Regions from separate parts of the Homo sapiens genome. Here regions 1, 3 and 4 are each linked to region 2. Evidence: fine-mapped expression QTL. A gene starts in region 2. Each other region holds a variant in brackets. All regions are shown on one strand. Distances are between the middles of the regions. Region 1 overlaps GPATCH2L (G-patch domain containing 2 like). Region 2 holds the start of GPATCH2L (G-patch domain containing 2 like). Region 3 overlaps LOC105370575 (a long non-coding RNA gene). Region 4 overlaps GPATCH2L (G-patch domain containing 2 like).

Region 1 (5,154 bases), 61 kb after region 2:
TAATTAGATTAGTGAGATTCTAAGGTGGGTCACTCCTGTTTACTTATGAGTTGCTATTTATGAAAAGATGGCCTGGACTGTGTTCCCTCTTCTGCTTTCTCCTCTTCCGGGTCTTGGACTGGTAAGGGGGCCTGTGCCCAAAAGGGGCTCCTCCACCTAATGCTGTCTTTAATCTGTGGCTTTCTGCTGCTGGTTAATTTTTTAATTTGGCTTCCTCAAGCCTTTTTGGCCTTGAACTTCATGTTGATTTTTATCAAAGAACTTTTTATTGGGGCATCAGCACTAGCCCTATGAATACAGTGAAACTTGGGGTTCCACTTTCATCAGATGTGACCCTGTGTGTTCCTGATGTCTTTGAATCACTAGTTTCTGATTCAAAATATGGGGTAGGTGGATCTGATTAGTAGTCATATGCCTGTGTCCTGGCTAGGAAGTCAGAATGAGGTTATCTGGAAAGTTGAGCTTCCTCACACATGGGAAGGTACTTCAGATGCTGGACAGCCAATAAGAATAACAAAGGTCCACCAGAACCATTGCCCCAGTCACTGATTGAACAAACATTTACTGAACACTGATGAAGCGAAGTCCTCCTCAGGGACCTCTTAGGGAAGAGGGTAACTGCCCTAAAGCAGGATACTCCTGGGCTCCTTAGATATACTATCCTTGAAACTATTAGGCCCCTGTCCAGAGTACCTAATAATAATAATGGCAAATATGTATTTGGTGGTCTGCCATTTGGAAGCAACATCTCACTTATTCAACAACTCTAAAGGTAGGTACTTTTATCTCCATTTTAAAACAATGAAATACACTTACAGTTACAGACAAACTTGCTCGAGTCACATATCTATTAAGTGTCAGTCAAGATTCAGATTCAAGTCTGATGTTAAAGAGTGTCTGTTCCCAATCAATACCTCTGCTGCCTCTTTTTACAAACTGAACTGTTGGAGGGCATGTACATATGCATAAGCTGTGGGCCACTGGGCCATGGGCCAGTGTCTGATGAGACCTCTTTATTGACTTGTTTGTCCTGGTGGGCTGTTTCTCTACCAGGCAACTGTGAATGGGCTCATCCCTTCTCTGTGCGTACATGATTGAAAGGAGATAGCCGGTTTCTGTGACATCCTCTTATAACAACCTAGTTTTGTTCTTGAGAGTGACCAGAGCAAGAGAAAAGTCAATGAAATTTTGCAGATCTTGCAAACCTGTGGCAATAAGAAGGTATTATCCTTTCTGTACCAAGGCACAACTGATTCCTAAGTGAGGGGGATATGTGTTCTGAGATGTTAATGTTAGTGATAGACTGTTTTCAACACCTTGGTAAACATTTCTTTTGACTGTTAGCAAAAGCTGCCTTAACAGTCTTGGCTTTTAGAAATGCCCCTTCATTCATTAGATGTGTATGGAACACATCTTATGCCAAGCACTCTGCTAGGAGCTGGGTATACAGAGAAGAAAGGCATTCCTGCTCTCATGATGTTCATGGTCTTCTGCGGAAGAGACCAGAAAAAAAGTATTACAATGTAGAATGAAATAAGAATGACAGGGTATTTTGGCAGCAAGGAGGAGGGCACTTTAACTCAAACTGGGCAGTGGAAGAAGTAAAAAAAAACATTGAAAGAAATCCTGAAGGATAAGCAGGAGTTAAGAAGAGTGGATGAAGCCCTCCAAGGGTAAAAGCATGGTTTATTCAGAGCACTGCAAGTGTTTTAGTATGGCCCACATGTAAAGCTTACAGAGGAACAAAGAGAGAAAGGCAAGAGCCAGGAAGTGAAGGGTCCTGTGTATACTGGCTTACTTGTTGAGTTGGAGAACTATTGCCGTATTCCTCTGCTAAGCTCAGGGTGCATTCGTGGAAACCCTACTGCAACTGGCCCATTGTGCATACAAAGCTGGAACTGAGATGTGAACAGATTTGCATTGCCTTGATCACCTTCCGTGGGAAATATAGCTAGGCCCACTTATTGGTAGGAGCTACTGACATGTTAAAACTAGGTTAAACTGAATTGGAAGTAATGGTGTATTTGGAATCATGGCTGACTGATTCCATTACATGTTCTAGCATGATACCAGTCTGAGGTTATTCCCCTTGAACCACCGACTTAGTAGAGTTTAATGCACAATGTGATGGTCTTAGTTCCTTGTACTGTTCTTCAGTGTCAAAGTTGTTCAACTACCAGTTAAGTTTTTTGGGCTTTGTTTCTCAGTAGTGACAATAAATTTGTGTTGATCTATTTACACCTTTTGGACTGAACACCTTAGCAATCATTGATATTTTAAGCCTACAGGAAGTGCCCATGGGATAAAACCAATCTGCTGGCTCACACTAAGTTCTGATCCCATGATTTTGGTCTCATTAATACCGTGCTATAAATAAAGTTAGCTAAATCTTTTGAAACTGCATAAAAGTGAAATAATTATGAGTTTTGGGCCAACATTTTTCCTGAACAGCTTCTGACTGACCAGCATTTTAAATTAGGCGATGCAGTCTAGCTTTTGTACATAGAAATAAGAAAGTGACTTATGTTCCATTATTAAAATAGTATAGGGAGGACAGGTAAATTACTAATTTTTCATTGCTCATAGTAGAGAATTAAGGTATATTGACTAGTGAAATAGAGGATTATGGGGATCATATGAAAATATGATTAAAGAGATTATCACTAGAAGAAAAATTCAGACTGCTAATTATGAGAAAAAACATGTATGCACAACCAAACAAATCACAAAAATGAAAGATGTCTAAAACCATAGAATAGGAACAAATGTACCTGTCATATTAATAAAAGTAAACTTATCTGTAGATAAAAGGCAAAAATGTCAGCAAACACTAATTTCATGTTATAAGATTCAGAAAGGTTGAGCAAAAGTAAACCAAGCAAACACAAACAAGAAAATGAGTTGTAGTCTGCATATCAGGCAAGGTTGAACTTAGGGAAAAGGAACCGGAAAAAAAAAAA[C/A]CAAAAAAAACCACGACATAATGCTAAAGGGTGTGACTCACGAGATAATGTTTCTAGATATCTGTGTACCAAATAATGGAAAACCATTTATGTATTGGAAACCATAGGAGACACAGGAAGAAACAAATACAATGTTAGTTGGATATTTTAATTCAATTCTGTCAATTCATGACAGATCAAGTGGATAAAAAACTAGGACATGGGATGATTTAAATAAGATACAGAAGATCTAGTTGATGCATATTAGACTTTACCCTAAAAGTGGTAACTACACTTCAAAGTATCCATGAAACATTTCCCCATTTGACTGTGTATTAGAGCGTACAGAAAACATAAGTTTCAGAACGGAAAAAAGGAACAACAGATGGCATTTGCTGATAAAAATGCAATAAACTTAGAATTTGAGGATAGGTGGTCAGAAAAAAAAATGCAATAAATTAAAGCCAGAAAACACTGCTCATCTGCAATCCAAAATGTTTTTAAGCTCTTCAACTATTCTTGGGTTGATTAGGAAATGCAAAGTATTAAAAAAACATTTCATATCTAAAATATAAACTTGTTCCTCTGAGATACAAATAAAACAGTGCTCAGAGGAAAATTCATTGCCCTAAAATTTATGTATTAAAAAATAAGATAAATGTCATATAACTCAAAATATTAGGAAAAGGAATCTTTTAAAGGCAGGCTAAAAGAATCAAGAAAAATTAATTAGAAAAATGAGGAAACAAAGCTAATTTTTAAAATATGTAGTAAAATATGTAACATTTTAGCTAACATTACAAGAGAAGACAAACACAAAATAAGAATTACCAAGTATTGAATAGGTAAGAGTCATAAAATATTCTTTGCTCAACTGTATGCAAACAATTTAAAAACTTGGATTAAATGGATAATTTTCCAGGAAGGTATAGTTTGCCAAAAAATGACATCAAAAGAAATCTAATATAACAATTGTCATAGAAGAAATGAAGTAAGTATTTCAATTAGCATGACAGACTAAATACTTTTAAAGACCCAATGAAAACAAAGAAATGCATTTGGAGAATTAACAGAAACTTTTTGTAACACCAATTTTTTATTTTACATTTTAAAGCATGGAATGGAATTTATTGTAAAGACGTGTATTTTATAGAATCCAAGCAAAAGCTCACCAGCCAGAGATAAAGTGAGGCCAGCTCAGGGAATGTGAGCAGTGGCGATTTATTCCCTCTGGTGTTCCATGTTAGCCTGACACAGAGCCCCCTCTTCACATTCTCAGGGGCTCTTGATCCAAAACCTTTTTTAAAAAAAATAATTTTAGACTTAACAGAAAATCTGCAAAAATAGATTTCCTGTGTGCCCTTCTCTCAGCTTCTTCTAATGTTAACTTACATACCAATGGTACAATTATTGAAACTAGGAAATTAACATTGGCACAATCCTATTAACTACATACTTTATTTGAATTGTAGCTGTTTTCCCAGTAATGTTGTTTTTCTGGTTCGGTATTCAATCCAGGATCCATATGTACTTGGGTCTTTCTGGGTTTTCTGTTCCACTGGTCTACTTGTGCATGGTACCACACTGTTTTAATTATAGAGACTTTATAGTATGTTTTAACAACTGGCAAGGCTAGTCCCCCTTATAATTTTTCCTATTGTGCTTCTGGCTATTCATACATGTTTGTTTTTCCATGTGAACTTTAGTATCAACTTGTCTAAATTCATTTTTTAAGGTACATTGGTATTTTATTGATATTATATGATATTAACTGATTTAGAGAGAACTAACATCTTTAAAATGTGGTGTCATCCTATCCAAGAATAGGAGATGTATTTCCATTTATTCAAGTCTATTTTGTGCCTTTTAGCAGTGTTTTAAAATTATCCTTGTGTAGGTTTTGTGCATTTCTTGCTAAGCTTATCCCTAAGTATTTAATTTATTTGCTAGTAAATGAGATTTCCTCTGCCATTATGTCTTCTAACTGGTTATTGCTCTCTATATAAAAGCTACTGATTTTGTATGCTAATATATCTTGCTACCTTACCTAATTTTTTTAAAAAAATAAACAACAGAAATTTATTTCTTATGGTTTCACAGTCTGGGAAGTCCAAGATCAGGGTGCTGGCTGATTCAATGTCTGGTGAGAGCTTGCCTTCAGGTTCATAGATGGCACCTTCTAATTGTGTCCTCACATGGTGAAGGGAACTAGTTA
Region 2 (5,154 bases):
AGGAAAGGAGAGAGGGAAGAAAGGAAGGAAGGAAGAAAGAAACTGTGGAAGAAACTAAGCTTTATTTTTGACATTTTATTATATTTACTTATTTATTTTTGAGACACGGTTTCACTCCTGTCACCAGGCTGGAGTGCAGCAGTGTGCTCTCAGCTCACTACAACCTCTGCCTCCTGGAATGAAGTGATCCTCTTGCCTCAGCCTTTCCAGTAGCTAGGATTACAGGCGCCCACCACCACACTTGCCTAATTTTTTGTATTTTTAGTAGGGACGGGGTTTCACCATGTTGGCCAGGCTAGTCTCAAACTCCTGACCTGAAGTGATCCACCCGCCTCAGCCTCCCAAAGTGCTGGGATTACAGGCGTGAGCCACTACGCCTGGCCTATTTTTGACATTTTAAATTGGAAATGCTGGTGAGGTGAACAAGTGGAGCTATCTAGTAGAAAAATGAAAATATAAGTTGGATTTCAAGAAATTTGGGAGCTTTCAGTGCTGATGCAGGCAATCAACACCGTGGGAACAGATGTGATTTGTGGGAGAGAATTTTCACTTATGCAGAAAAGAGGCCTAAGGCTGTGGACACCTGTTGAACATTTCCATATTTCTGTCCTGTGGGAGTCACAGATTCAGCATGTCCAAAATGGAATTAATCATCTTTCCACTAAACCCGTTTATCTTCTTGACTTCTCTAGCTGTGCAGATGGCACTGACCATTGTCTTAGTTGCCCTAGCTCAAAACCTCAGCTATCTTTGTCTCCTACCTTGACTTTTTTTCACCTATAGAACATTCTGAAAATCCACAAAAAACAATAGATAGGAGATATAATCATTGATAATGAAACCATTTCGGATATTGTATGGTGGCTTCTTCTGGTCATATTCCTTTGCGAGTATAGATTTAATTTCCTTTGTATGGGAATCATACTCTACATTTTTAGAGTAATCTTTTTATTGAAGTATAACAGTCATGCAGAAATGTACACAATCATAAGTCGATGGCTTTTCATGTCATTAAATATTCTTTTGCAACATTAATTTTTAAAAGTTGCAAGATATTCCACCCATAGATGTACCATAATTTAGTTAACTAACCCCTGTTGTAGAACTTCTGGCTTTTTCTAGTTTCCTCATCTCTCCCTCAGAAATGCTGCAGAGATGATTTACCTATATTTAACATTTTTGCGCCCATTTCCAATTTTTCCTTAGAATACAATTCTTTGGGGCAAAATTTCAGGGTCCAAGGTATGTGCATATTTTTAAATAAACTTTTTTATTTTAGGATAATTTTGGGTTTAGATAAAAATTATGAAGATTGTTACAGTTTCTGTGTAATTCACACTTTCTCCTATTATTCACTTTTTTTTTTTTTTTTTGTGACGGCTGAGTCTCACTCTGTCGCCCAGGCTGGAGTGCAGTGGCTCGATCTCTGCTCACTGCAACCTCCGCCTCCTGGGCTCAGGCGATGCTCTTGCCTTAGCCTCCTGAGTAGGGACTGGGACTACAGGCATGTGCCACCACACCTGGCTAATTTTTTGTATTTTTAGTAGAGACGGGGTTTCACCATGTTGGCCAGGCTGATCTCGAAATCCTGACCTCAGGTGATCCGCCCACCTCAACCTCCCAAAGTGCTGGAATTACAGGTGTGAGCCACCACACCAGGCTATTCACTCTTACAGAAGTATAACACATCTCACAATTGCAACCAATATTGATACGTTATTATTATTATTATTATTTTGAGACGGAGTTTCACTCTTGTAGACCAGGCTGGAGTGCAATGGTGCGATCTTGGCTCACTGCAACCTCCGCCTCCCAGGTGCAAGTGATTCTCCTGCCTCAGCCTCCCGAGTAGCTGGGATTACAGGCACGTGCCACCATGCCCATGTAATTTTTGTATTTTTAGCAGAGACAGGTTTTCACCCTGTTAGCCAGGATGGTCTCAATCCCCCAACCTCAGGTGATCCGCCTGCCTCGGCCTCCCAAAGTGCTGGGATTACAGGCGTGAGCCACCTCACCCGGCCCGATACATTATGATTAACTAAAGTTGATACTTTATCCAGATTTCCTTAGTTTTTACCTAATGTTCTTTTTTCAATTGCAGCGTCACACCCAGGACACCATATTACATTGTCATGCCTCCTTAGGCTCCTCTTGGCTCTGAGTTTCTTAGACTTCCCTTGCCTTTGCTGATCTTAACAATTTTGAAGAATACTGGTCATGCACTCTGCAGAATGTCCCTCAATTCGGGTTTGTCTGATTTTTTTTTCTTATAATTAGACTGGGTTATGAGATTTGGAAGGAAAGTACCATAAAGTGCCATTCTCATCATATATCATTCCACATACTATCAACATGATTTAGCACATAGTCTTGATCACCTGGCTGAATTACTGTTTGCCAGGTTTCTCCCCTGTAAAATCACTCATTTTCCCCTTTACAGATGTTGTACTTTTGGGAAGGAAGTCACTATGCACAGCCCACATTTAAGGAGGCAGAAGTTATGCTGCAGGATGGCTGTCTACATAAGTTATTTGAGATTCTTCTGTGGGGGATTTATCTCTTCTTCCTCATTCGTTAATTTATTCAATCACTTATATCGGCATGGGCTCATGAATATTTCTTTTGTACTTTGAGTTATAATCCAATATCACTTGTTTTATTGCTCAAGGCAATTTGAAATGTTCTGAGTAACTCAGTGCAAAACAACCTCTTCCAAAGGTTGTACCAGCTCACAGGGTAGACGTCATTAAGATCCATTTCCCCTCAACTTCACAGACCCATTAAAAAGGTCAGAAAGCAAGAGATAAGCTGACATCCCTGCCTAGCGCCCAATTTCTGGAAGCCCCTAAGGAAGATGAGGCCAGCATGCAGGGGTCTTTCCCCACGTGGGGCACCTCAACCCCTGAGACGCCCTTTCCCGGCCAGACCCTATTCAACACCCCTCCTTGTCCCCTGCCCCATCTCCTGGCTTCCTGTGGCTCCGCCCACCGCGGGGCGGAAGTGGGTGTGGCCACGGGCGGAAGCACTGGGTCAGGGGCCCAATCGTGCAGCCAGCCCCTCCCACTCGCCACCGCCCCACCCCTCCGGCCCAGACCGGAAATGAGGTCAGAGAGGGAAGCCCCGGCGGTGAGAGTCGGCCCAAAAAGCGGCGGCCGTTGGAGGTGGCTGCGGCAGCTGGTGAGGGGGAGGAATGGGTTGAGAGTGTTGGGGTCCTGGGGGCTAGTACCAGAGGGGATCGGAGCGCCAAGCCGCGGCTGAGCGGCTAAGGGCGTCTTGGGGCTGCGGCAGACGGCCGGAGGGTGAGGGTGGTGGGGCCTTGCTTTTCAGGGCCCTTGTCCCCATCCCTGGGGATGTGGGTCGGGCCGTCTCCGGGGCCACAGCCCCCTCTTCCCCTTTCTTCTTTCTGCCTCTCTGGGGCGGGCTGCAGCCTGAGGGCTTGGTGTCCCGAGCCATGGTCGCCCCAGCCCTCAGGGACGGGCCGGGGCGTGGTGGAGAGTCCTTCGAAACACAGTTTTTGTCATATATGTGGCCATGTTGCGACCCCCGATCCCGGAGGGAGCTCAGTCGCCAAGACTTGCATTTTGGCAGTTTCTGCCCTAGAAGAGCCGATCCCCGCCCCTCGTGAGCCCAAATGAGCAGTTGCCTCCTGCCTCTCCCACCTCCTACTCCGCCCCTCACTTCCACCCTGCTCCTGTCTCTCTTCTTACTTGCTGTCCACCAGCTACCCGTTCCTTCCTGTGCGTGACTCAGCCTCATCTCTGCCCGGGTGCGTGCCTGGCCGCCGGGTCCTCTCGAGAGTGTGCATCCGCGACTGGAGATGGGGAGTTCTAGGGTTCTTTTGTCACTACTGTTGGAATTACAGGCTTTGAGGCAGGAAAGGATTCTGCACAGGCATTCGACTGCAAGTTGTTTGATGACTTCGTTCCATGTTCAAGTTTGTGCTGTTCTGCCTGAGGTTTTTATTTGTTCTTTTGTTTTTGTTTTTTGTATTTTTGTTGCCTGAGTTTTTAAAGCAGTAATTCTTTATTAGGGAAGTAGATTTTGACATGCTGTTCCCACTTGTTTCTTTATTTTGGTCTTAGGGACAGTTGTCTCCCAAACCTCAATCATGGCATTTTAATCCACTTTTTTTTTTCCCATTTTTTCCCCTTCTTTTCACAGGTGTTGATAAACCACTTCTTAATGCTTAAAAGAACTTGGTCTTGTTTAAATGTATGTGCTTTTGGACACTTTGAGAAGCTTCGTTTGTATGGTAGTTTTGGAAGTAGGTGTCACTATTGCTCCTACAGGTGTGGCAGATAAGCCAGAGGACTGTTTTCCTGTCTTTAAGTTCATTGGCATAGGCACAGCATGAAAATAGGTTTTAGAAAGCCCTTTGCAAAGTGAAAACTGAATGAATGGGAATATGGTCAGAGAGTGGCACCACTTAGAATTTTAAGCTGATCTTGAAATACTTTGGGCATAGAGGCAAGAGAAAAGTGCTAAAAATTTAATATGTATTTAATTAGATGCTGTACAAATTAAATATTTCCCCTTAAGGGGGAATTTTGAAGATTGCTCCTACTACTGTCATTTCTTGAAATGTTTGTCTCTGAAGTGACCCCTGAAGTGTGATGTTTGGTTTGAGGATGAACAGAAAAATAAGAAATTTTGGAAAGCAGTTTGGCCAGAAATCTTAGAAACTTCACCCTATCCCTGTCATTTCAGCTGCTATTGTATCCTAGTTTTCTGTGATTGTGTGGCACTGAAGCACATAACTAGGACCAACATTTATTTTCTGGAGGGTAGGAGAGGGGCTTAAAAATTGTTAATTATTCAAAAATATATGACATACTGTATAAGGTTCTATACCTGGTAGCTTCCAGGTGGTAGTTGGTACCAGAATGGGCGCAAACTTAGTCTCTTCTCCATTCTGACTTCAAACCTGGGTCACTACAATTTCTTGGATCACGAAAACTGCATTCTTCCTTAAATGGTGTCACTAAGTTGTCTTTCTGTTTCTTTCTGCCATGGTCATTGTCAGCAGTGACCCCAGGCCAAAGAACAGTTTTTCATTCATTCTCAATACCTCGATGAGACCATGTGCTACTCTGTGTTTCCACAACTCTAGTGTGATTTTGAAGTTGTATGTTTTTCTGTTCCTGTCTAGTGAGA
Region 3 (5,154 bases), 110 kb after region 2:
ACAAAGACGTATTCCTCTCATTAATGACTGTTAGTGTAGCATCATGCAATGCTCCTGAGAAACTGCAGAAATAGTAATGACCATGTGATGGCCAAGGCTGATTGGAAGATGCTCCTGGGGAGAGATGAAGTTTGGATTTACAGCATCAGCATGAAGGAGTTGCAAGCATTGGTGTTGTAAACCGCACTGGCACCTGACACTAAATGTGGGAAAGGGATGGGGTTCCAGAAATAAAGCAAAAATACCAGGCAATGGATGCACAGTGACTGAGTTTTGGGAGAGGCATAAATGCCAAGGAGAATGGGTTGTAGGTTCTATGTTGGGGTGAGGCTATGGTGGGGTGGAAGTATGAGTGTTGAGTGAGTGAGTATCATTGTCTCAGATCCTGGAGAAAGGTCAGCCTTGCATGGCATGGAAGGGCAGGTGTTCATACAGTTGGGCATTATGCCTGGCACATCACCTATGTCAACCCATTTAACCTTCACAACAACTGGGTATAGTAGGTATTATTGTTCCCATTACGCATATGAAGAAACTGAGGTTCAGAGAGGCCCTGTAATTGCATTGTGGTCTGATTCAGATCTGGGGTTTATAGCTAGAAGTTCTAAAGGAAGCCTTAAAACACTGCCGCACCTTTTAGATCTGGATTCGTAGGAAGGGAAGGTTATTCTAAAATGCAGTGGCAGACAGAGGGCAACAGACTGTCATCACCTCTGCATCTGGATGACTCTTTATGGTCATTAGCATCTCCCAGGGCCCTCAGTGAGCAGCTTCTCAAGGCAGGTCTTCCCTGATGGCAAGAGGTGGCATGAAACCTCCTCTGCCACATGCTGGCTGCTCCCGTACAGGTGGTCCGGCTGCTGCTGGCTAAGGACAGGCAGAGGAGGGAGGATGGAGGAAAGGTGAGGGCTGGTAGGTGCTCAAGCCACCCAGGCCAAACAGTGGCAGCAGGAGCAGCAGAGAGGCCTGCATTTTGGTGGTGCCCCAGGCTGCACTGCTATTTTCACTTCAGGGGCTGTGAGCAGAGAAGATCCTTCCACCTCACTCTTCTCATTTTACATGTGCCCTGAAGAAACATCCTACCCAGAGGCTAGAACATCTCCAACTATCTAGAAGATGGCCATAATTATTTGGTTAATAGCCACCTCCACCACTGAACTTCTGCAACTTGCCTCTGATGAAGCTGTTCCAATAATTGTTCATTTCTTCACCCATTCTTTTGCTCCACCAGTATTTCCTAAGCAGCTGCTATGCCATGTGCCAGACGCTGTGCTGCTCCTGTAGTATGGTAGGCAGACACAGTCCCTGCCCTCAAGAAGCTTACAGTCTGGTGGAAAGACAGACAATTCTCTTCTGCAGCTCCCTCTCTGCCTCTGCCCCAGCACCCATGCTGGTCTCTCCCAGAGCTTACATCCCCCGGGTCCTCCCTGCAGGCCAGACACCACGATGCCAAATGCGGGCTGCTCATCAAAGACTCCATTGAGAGCTGGTCGCTGTGTGGGGAAAGCAGCAGTGTTGGCTCCGAACCTGACCTGAGGAGGCATGGCTACCGTCAGTTCTGTTGTGACAGCCCTTGACAGCAGGTGTCTGTCATCTCCCCCATTCTATCCCCTCCAACCACCCCAACGTTTTTTGCCAGCCTCAAAGTGTCACTTCCATTTGGAAGGCATAGAGGAAGCTACGTGGTGAGAGGAACCTGTCATCACTCTACTTCTTGACCAGGGTGGAGGCCAGAGGACAAGTGGCATCTGTGCTGGGACATCCTAGGAGCCTGAAGCTGCTGCTGAAAGCAGCTGGGACCCCAGGTGCCTCTGCTGCAGTCCCTCTTCTCCCTGCCTGTGCCTTTAAAGAGGGTAGTTTTCTTCCATGGACCCATCACTGGCATTCATCTTCTCAGTGTGTCACTTGGTGGAAACGACAATATTTCCCTAGGTAGGGGTAGAGTGAGGAGTGGAAGGGAATGTCCTGGCTAAGGGTTTGAGCTGCTGGAGACTGACCTTAAGGGATGAGGAAGGGAGTGAACAAAAGGTAGTGAGTTGAGGCTTTGGGGTCAGACCAGGGCTGAAATTCTAACTATGACCCAGCAATTCACTGCTGGGTGTATACC[G/C]AAGAGAAATGAAAACTTCTGTCCACACAAAGACATGTATGCAAATGTTCATGGCAGCGTTATTCATAATAGCCAAAAAGTGGAAATAACCCAAATGTCCATCAACTAATGAATGCATAAATACAATGTCGCATGTCCATACAATGGACTACTATGTACCCATAAACAGGAATGAAGTGCGGATACCTGCTACAGCATGGATGAACTTCAAAACTTTATGAACTAAGTGAAAGGAGTCAGATGCAAACCACGCAGATACATGTTGTATGCTTCCATTTATATGAAATATCCAAAAAGGCAAATCTATAGATACATGTATTAGTCCATTCTTAAATTGCTATAAAGAAATATCCGAGACTGTGTAATTTATAAAGAAAAGAGGTTTAACTGGCTCACAGCTCTGCAGGCTGTATAGGAAGTGTAGTGACTTCTGGGGAGGCCTCAGGAAATTTTCAGTCATGGTGGAAGGTGAAGGGGAAGCAGGAGGAAGAGACAGAGAAGGGGCAGGTGCCACACACTTTTAAATGACCAGATCTCATGACAACTCACTCACTATCAAGAGAACAGCACCCAAGGGAAATTCACCCCCGTGATCCAATCACCTCCCACCAGACCCCACTTCCAATGTTGGGGATTACAATTCGACATGAGATTTGGACAGGACACAGATCCAAACCATATCAATACAGAAAGTAGATTAGTGGCTGCCTGCGGCTAGAGAAGGAGGACAAGGAGAGACTACAAATAGACAAAAGATCTTTTTAAGATGATGGGAATGTTCTAGAACTAGATGGTGGCAAGGGTTGCACAGCTTTGTAAACTCACTAAAAATCATTGGAATACACTTACAATGGCTACATTTTATGATGTGTAAATTATACCTCAATAAAGCTATTTAAAAAATCTCCATTATACCACTTCCTAGCTTTGGGAAATTACTTAACTATTGAGTCTGTTTCTTCATCTATAAAATGGGGAGGATGATACCTACTTCACAGGCTCACTGTGAGAATTAGGGGCCTGATTCACAGTGAGCACTCAAGAAATGTAAATGGTAGCAGTTGGCAGTCATTACTACTGCTCCTGTCTTTTTGTTTGTTTTTGTTTTTGTGGTAGTAGAAGTGTCTTGATTTAGAAAGAGAGGAGAGGGCTGGGTACGGTGGCTCACGCCTGTAATCCCAGCACTTTGGGGGGCCGAGGCGGGTGGATCACCTGAGATCAGGAGTTTGAAACCGGCCTGGCTAACATGGTGAAACCTTGTCTCTACTAAAAATACAAAAATTAGCTGGGTGTGGTGGTGAGTGCCTGTAATCCCAGTTACTCGAGAGGCTGAGGCAGGAGAATCGCTTGAACCTGGGAGGCTGAGGTTGCAGTGAACCGAGATCTTGCCGTTGCACTCCAGCCTGGGCGACAAAGCAAGACTCCGTCTCAAAAGGGAAGGGAGGGAGGAAAGGAGAGGGGAGGGGAGGGGAGCGGAGGGGAGGGGAGGGGAAGGGAGGGGAGGGGAGGGGAGGGGAGGGGAGGGGAAGGGAAAGGAAAGGAAAGGAAAGGAAAGGAAAGGAAAGGAAAGGAAAGGAAAGGAAAGGAAAGGAAAGGAAAGGAAAGGAAAGGAAAGGGAGAGAGAGATACCAAGAGATATCAAGCATCTTAGCTACCAGGAAAATTACAGGGTTTGAGGGTTTTTGAGATGTTAACTTCACTCCTTGTACCAGGTGCATGGTTTTATTCTGTTGTTTGTTGTTTTGAGACAGTCTTGCTCTGTTGCGCAGGGGGGAGTACAGTGGCACAATCTTGGCTCACTGCAACCTCCACCTACTGGATTCAAGTGATTCTCGTGCCTCAGCCTCCCAAGTAGCTGGGACTACAGGCACGCACCACCATGCCGGGCTAATTTTTGTATTTTTTAATAGAGATGGGGGTCTCACTATGTTGCTCAGGCTGGTCTCAAACTCCGAAGCTCAAGCCATCCTTCCGCCTTGGCCTCCCAAAGTGCTGAGATTACAGGCGTGAGCCACCACGCCCGGCCCAGGTGCATGTTTTTAATGGTCTGCCTCCACAATACATTTCCTGAATGTTCTCTCTGAATGCCAAGGAGTCTGGTTAAAACAAACAAACAAACAAAACCTCCCGCCAGCCAGAGGCATAATGGAGACGTGGGGCTTCTACAGATATTCATAGCCAAGAGGAGTTGAATTATGCTGGAGAGGGAAAACATAGGGGCCACGTGGTGCCCAGTGCCCCTACTTTCTTTCTTCTTATTCCAGCTCTTCATTTTTATTCCCCAATCCTGAAATGTAGTTGGGATTTACCATGAGCCAGCGGGGGCTGAAAGAGCCCCGTTTACCTCTAGGCCCTACGTTCCTCTGGACGAGTTTCATTTCCAGGAAACTGCTCCCCTCCTGGAGACAACAGGGTTTTCAGCAGCCCCAGGTCCGCGTCCATTCAGCCTAACAACCCCAGGGGAAACGTAAATGGTAGCAGTTGGCTGTCTTTACAAATAGTTTCAACAAAATCCCCAGGGTTCATTCTCTTTAAGTTCCTGAGACCTCACGCTCCTCCTGCGCGGATCGTTGTGGCCCGGAGAACACAGCAAGCTGATTGGCCAGAGCTGGTCACGTGCCCCGGCGGGCGGGGGAGGGGGCATGTCGGGGAGCCGGGGCCGGGGGCGGTCAGCCCCACTCTACCAACATTGATAGAAAGAAAAGAGGAGGTCTTCAAGGAAAATTAGAGCTTCTTACCAGAGGAAAGAGAATAACTGTCTGGCAGATAAATCCCAGATGTCCACTCTAACCGTCCACCTTGGAACCTCCACCTTCCTGTGCTCGTCTTAGAGGAATTCTAGAACTGTCGTTGGAGGAACACCGCTGTTTTCTAGAGGTCCCACAGCCGTCCTTCTGTTCATGCGGAGTACGGGCCAGCAGCTTCATTTTCCTAAGAGCATGTTAATTCCGTTTCTCATCTGGCTCATTTTCAAAGCCATGTTTCCACACTTAATGAAAACACAGTATCTGTATTACAAATGCTTGCTAAGGAATATAACCCCAAAG
Region 4 (5,154 bases), 52 kb after region 2:
TTCTAGGGTAGTGCTTTTTTCACTGCAGTTTGGTGACCATGTAGGTACAGTTTTTTGAAATTTATTACCAGTTAAATATGAGTGAGTATATGTGCCTGAGTTTGTTGTGAGTGTGTGTGTATGAGAGAGAAAAAGAGAGAGATTTGAGTTGTCAAATGTATTTCCTGCTGCTGTGGTGACGTTCCAAAATGTTTGAAAGCTGTTGCCCTCAAGAAACTCTTGTATATAGAGTAACAGCTTTCAAGATATTTTTACATTAGCCCACAATAAGAAATTCATGTTTGAATATGTGCGTTGGTTGTACATGTAAATCTGAAATAAATCTTGGGTACATGCCGATACTTTCTATTTTTTTCATTGAGTAAAAAAAGTAATGGCCATGACCCACTAAATTGATTTTGTGATCCACAATTTGAAAATTACTGTTTTAGGTTACGTTTCTGGGACTGGAATTATTGGGTGACGGTAAAATCCAAACTTCCCTAGATTTTGCCATATTTTAGTATATATTTGTTCTCAGCAGAGTGGGTAGAGATGATGGTGGTTTGTGCCACTCCACTCAGGGGCATTTGGAAATGTGAAGTAAATGTTTGTTTGTCACAATGACTGGGGAGTGTTCCTGGCATTCAGCAGATAGGATCCAGATCGGTAAGTGTTCTGAAGTATACAAGACAGCCCTGCACAAGCCATGTCTCCTGTCCAGAATGTCTTTAGTGATCTTATTGAAAAATATTGGGCCTGATTGTGCTCTTTTTCTACCATTTTCCTTGTTGTATGGTATATATTTATTGGTAACACTGCCCTATCGGAGGCATGGGTTGTGGCAGGAAGAGCGTGGGGTTTAGAGTCCAGTATGTGTGCTTGAATCTTGATATTTAACCAGCTCTGTTTTATCCCTGAACAATTTATCTGATCTCTGTATACCTTAGCTCCCTGATCTAGAAAGTGGAGATCACTATGAGTCATCTCTATGAGCATCTATGAGTAAGGGTTTGCATTAACAAGATCATGAGTATTCATTGTTTAAGCAATACACACATAAGTACGTAATAAGTGATTTTTACTACATTATGAATGCGTGCTACTGAATTTATTTGTTCAGTTGAACCCATTTTCTCAGATTAGGAAATACTATCTTATTTAAATCTTGTCTTTACTTTTTTGTAGAGAAGAAAGAGATACCTTACGTGGCCACTTGGGTTACTAGGACATGAAGTATAAGGATTAAGAAAATTTTTTTTCTAAGTATCTCTCATTCTAATTTGTCTTATTCTAATTTATCTCCCCTTGATGTTTTGCTCCTCTCTGTTGTAACCTTACTAGTTCACATGGATGCAGTGGAGCCAACCACACCAGCATCACAAGCCCCCAAATCACCCAGCTCTGAGTGGTTGGTGAGGACCTCTGCAGCAGAGAAAGCCACAGACGCAACTACTGCTACATTTTTTAAAATGCCACAAGAAAAGAGCCCTGGATACAGCTAGAGAGCAGGACTTCACCCTCCAGGAGCTGACTGGGTGTTGCTGAAGCAAATGTTGGACTTTGTGTTAGATAGTCTTGCATATCTTAATCGACATTCCCAGTCCTTTCACCACCAGAACCAACTCCTCTTTCAAACACAGCAGTGGATTCTTTCTCTCAGAAGATCATGTTGTGGGAATCTTTTTTTTAAATAGTGAAATATTGAGGCAGCAATTTTTTACAAAAAGGTCATCCTCTGCTCTATTTGTTACCTTGTTATTGCTGTCTCAACATTTACTACAGCTCCATTTACAGAACTGTTGCTTTTTTGCAGTTGTCTTTGTTCTTGAAAAACCAGTAACTGCTTCTGCATACCTTTTGTGTAGAGCTTTTAATATCATTTGAGGAAGTTCCAAATTTGTAGCCAGTTCCAAACAAATTTAAATATTGAGTTGAGACCTGTATGGAATTGTGTTCGCAGGAGATAAGGCTTGCCTTTGAGCCTACTCTTGATTCATGCAGAGTGCCAATAAGATAAATCAACCAAGTTTTGGGGCCTCAAAAGAGACACCAGCAACTGGGCCTTGAGAACTTCCATTTTTTTGCAGATTGTCTGCAGAAACTCAGACAGCTCATCAGCAGCAGCAGCTGTATTGTATTTTACCTCATCTTCAGAGTTTATGTTCTACTGAAAGAGGACGTGTGTATACACACACACACACACACACACACA[C/G]AGATTGGTATAATGGAGAAGATGGTTTAGGTGTACAGCAAATTTAAAATAGTCAGTGGATTGTGTCTTACTACTTCATGTCCCAGTGTAAGCCTTTATGTCCTAAGCAGGACTTTATTGTTAGTATTATAGGCTAATAACCTGCAGCAGAAATTCATACTCTATTATAATAATGGCTTCTTGGGGCCATGCTTTGGGGAAGTAAAATGTCTTTTTGACATGCCTTTATACTTGGCGTGTTTATGATGGCTCAGCTGCATGTGGAGTTATATATACAGTCGTGCCTGAAGTTGGATGCTACTTTGTCAAAATGAGAAATAAGTGATGGCCTGGAGCTGCTGGAGAGAAGCCACGCTTTCTAGAAAATATTATCAGGAGTGTCTGTCATTCATTCAGGGGCCTAGCTGACAGAAGGGCTCTTTTTTTTATACCAATGAGTGCGTTTACTCTGAAATACATAGAAGCTCTTGGTGAAGTGCTCCCTGCTCTGGTCACATTGTAGAGGGACTCCCACTCATGCATCTGCTTATTTTCTGTCTTAAATAGGTGCTGAATGGGGCAGCACCTCCTTCCCCCAAAGTGCGATTGCCCCTGTTTCCCATACGAAGTGTAATGACGGGTTGCTTTTAAAATTATAGTCCTTATCAATGGAAACTCCAGATTTCTTTATCAAAGGGAGGTGGGTGGGCATGAATCTAGTTGGAAAAGGGGACTTGAAGCTAAGTTTACATGGCACTTTAAGACTGAGAACATATCAATTGTTCATAATCAGGAATATGGTAGAGGGAGAGCAGGTGTAGATGATGGGACGGGAAAGTGCTGAAACCAGCCCAGCAGACCTGTGAGTCGCCTCTGGTTCTCACGCAGCAGTGTGTGTGTGCTCACAGGGATGTTCCACCCCTGGTTCTCATGCAGTAGTGTGGGAGAGTGCTGAAGCCGGCCCAGCATGCCTCTTAGTTGCCTCTGGTTCTCATGCAGCAGTGTGTGTGCTTACAGGAGTGGAGATGATGGGATGGGAGAGTGCTGAAGCTGGCCCAGCATGCCTCTGAGTCACCCCTGGCTCTCATGCAGCAGTGTGTGTGCTTACAGGGACTTCCCAGGCTGCACTTCCCTTCCCTGTGGGCTGCACCCGTAGAAGTATAGAAAATGTAATGTCTGTTGAATATAAAATCGTACCACTGAATTGTTCTAGTGATGAGGTTAGATTTTGTTGTCATGTGCATTGTCACCATAGTGACCCGTGGCATATATTTTTAACATACTTGGTTGGGTTTGAGAGAAATCTGTGGACGTAATTTTTTGTTTGTGTCAAGCTCTATGACTCATGCAGTGATTGGTCCCATGATCATGGCCTATTAGTGAAAACCTCCAAAGGTCAGGTGGCCAAGGTGTTCCCACATTTTTTCTATATAACTTGTTTCCTAATAGTCTGCCTTTCTACCTATGATTAAAAATAATTTTTATATACAACATTATTTACATTTCAAACATCTCTACGAAGTCATGCCATTTTAAGGAGATGAAAACAGCCACAGAGTTGAGTGACTTGCTCCAAATCACATAACTAAGCCAGGACTAGAATCCCAGACTTTCAGATTTTCTCTGCCCTGGGTTATAATCTCTTGTTTTTCAGTGATAGACCTGAGTCAGTCTGAGATGCTTATTTATGAAACAGTATACCATGAATATTTATTATCTTTCTTGGGCATGCTTTTCTACACATTTTGAATACTTTCAACAGGGATTACCCAAGAATGCAACATCTACCTGTAATAAATGGGGAGAAAATTAGTTGCCTGAGAGAACAGAATATTAAGCACACAAATACTTTCCAACACAGGGTTGTAAATTGTGCTCCTCATTTTAAGGTGCTGTACGTGCATGTTTAAGGAATTATTAATCAGTGTATTCTGCTTGCTTTCTGTATTAACCAGTTCCAGAGGATAGCCTTAGAAATGAGTGTATTTTGAATCTTAAAGTTTCTTTATATGCGGCACAGTGTATAATGTCGTAAGTTAAGAAAAATCTGTTATCTTTCAAAGAAGTTACGTAGTTTCAAAAATGAGGTTTTGTAATCAGTGTTGAAAAAACTCTGAACTATGACTTACTTTGAGGATGATCCTTGAGCTCATGTATTTGATCTGCTCAAAAGTAATAACTAAAGCTGAGTTAAACAGTTGTTATTTATTTCAGGGTTCTGATTTTTCCCAGCTGGCTACACAAATGGCCTGTCTGAATCCTAGTTTAGTGTGTTTTCCACGATGGGCAGAAGTCAGAACATTATCTGCTTCTGTGAGGATCATAATAAAAAGTTAGTTTTAATTACGAGTTTAAAGGAATTTTAGATTTTTTTCAGATGCAGTATTTTAAAGGAACAAAACTCCTGTGTTGCCTTTTGTTGTTGTTGTTGTTGTTGTTGTTTCCTAGAGACAGGTTCTTGATCTGTCACTCAGGTTAGAGTGCAGTGATGTGTTCATAGCTCACTGTAACCTTGAACTCATAAGCTCAAGCCATCCTCCTGCCTCAGCCTCCTGAGTTGTGAGGACTATGGAAGTGTGCCACCATGCCTGGCTAATTTTTTAAGTTTTTGGAGAGATGGGGTCTTGCTCTGTTGCCTATGCTGGTCTTGAACTCCTAACCTCAAGCAATCTTCCTGCCTCAGCCTCCCCAGGTGTTGTAATAATAGGTGCGAGCCACCATGCCCAGCCTTGTGTTGCCTCTTGGTAAGAAATAATAAAAAGAAATTAGTAGCTTGTTTACCTGGTACCAGATTTGGAGGGGGCTGAGTATAATTTTTACTGAGTGGTATGTGGTTGGAAAATAGGCCACATTTAGCCTTGAATTGTTTAGAAATCAAATGCGATTCAGAATTGAAGAGGACATTGCTGGGCTATGAAATAGGGTACTAACAAGGCTATTTTTGTAGCAAAATGGCCAAAAGCTGAAATAAATCTTCTTAG

Evidence for each region. PIP is the estimated chance that this variant, and not a neighbour inherited with it, causes the effect.
Region 1: its variant is fine-mapped to the expression of GPATCH2L in whole blood (INTERVAL, PIP above 0.99).
Region 3: its variant is fine-mapped to the expression of GPATCH2L in lung (TOPMed, PIP above 0.99).
Region 4: its variant is fine-mapped to the expression of GPATCH2L in whole blood (INTERVAL, PIP above 0.99).

What each region holds. Positions count from the first base shown.
Region 1 is chr14:76,209,453-76,214,606 of GRCh38, forward strand. GPATCH2L (G-patch domain containing 2 like) reads left to right here. Exons shown (of 10, transcript NM_017926.4): 10 at 1-4,891. Among named protein-coding and RNA genes, the nearest start is that of GPATCH2L, 60 kb to the left of the region's middle. The variant C/A (reference allele first, on the strand shown) is at 2,961.
Region 2 is chr14:76,148,815-76,153,968 of GRCh38, forward strand. It overlaps GPATCH2L (G-patch domain containing 2 like), which reads left to right and starts at 3,108. Exons shown (of 10, transcript NM_017926.4): 1 at 3,108-3,177.
Region 3 is chr14:76,263,252-76,268,405 of GRCh38, forward strand. All of the region lies in intron 2 of LOC105370575 (a long non-coding RNA gene), which reads right to left. Among named protein-coding and RNA genes, the nearest start is that of ESRRB, 110 kb to the right of the region's middle. RefSeq lists an enhancer at 4,475-4,769. The variant G/C (reference allele first, on the strand shown) is at 2,108.
Region 4 is chr14:76,200,368-76,205,521 of GRCh38, forward strand. It overlaps GPATCH2L (G-patch domain containing 2 like), which reads left to right. Exons shown (of 10, transcript NM_017926.4): 10 at 1,324-5,154. The coding sequence ends at 1,484. Among named protein-coding and RNA genes, the nearest start is that of GPATCH2L, 51 kb to the left of the region's middle. RefSeq lists an enhancer at 2,927-3,356. The variant C/G (reference allele first, on the strand shown) is at 2,195.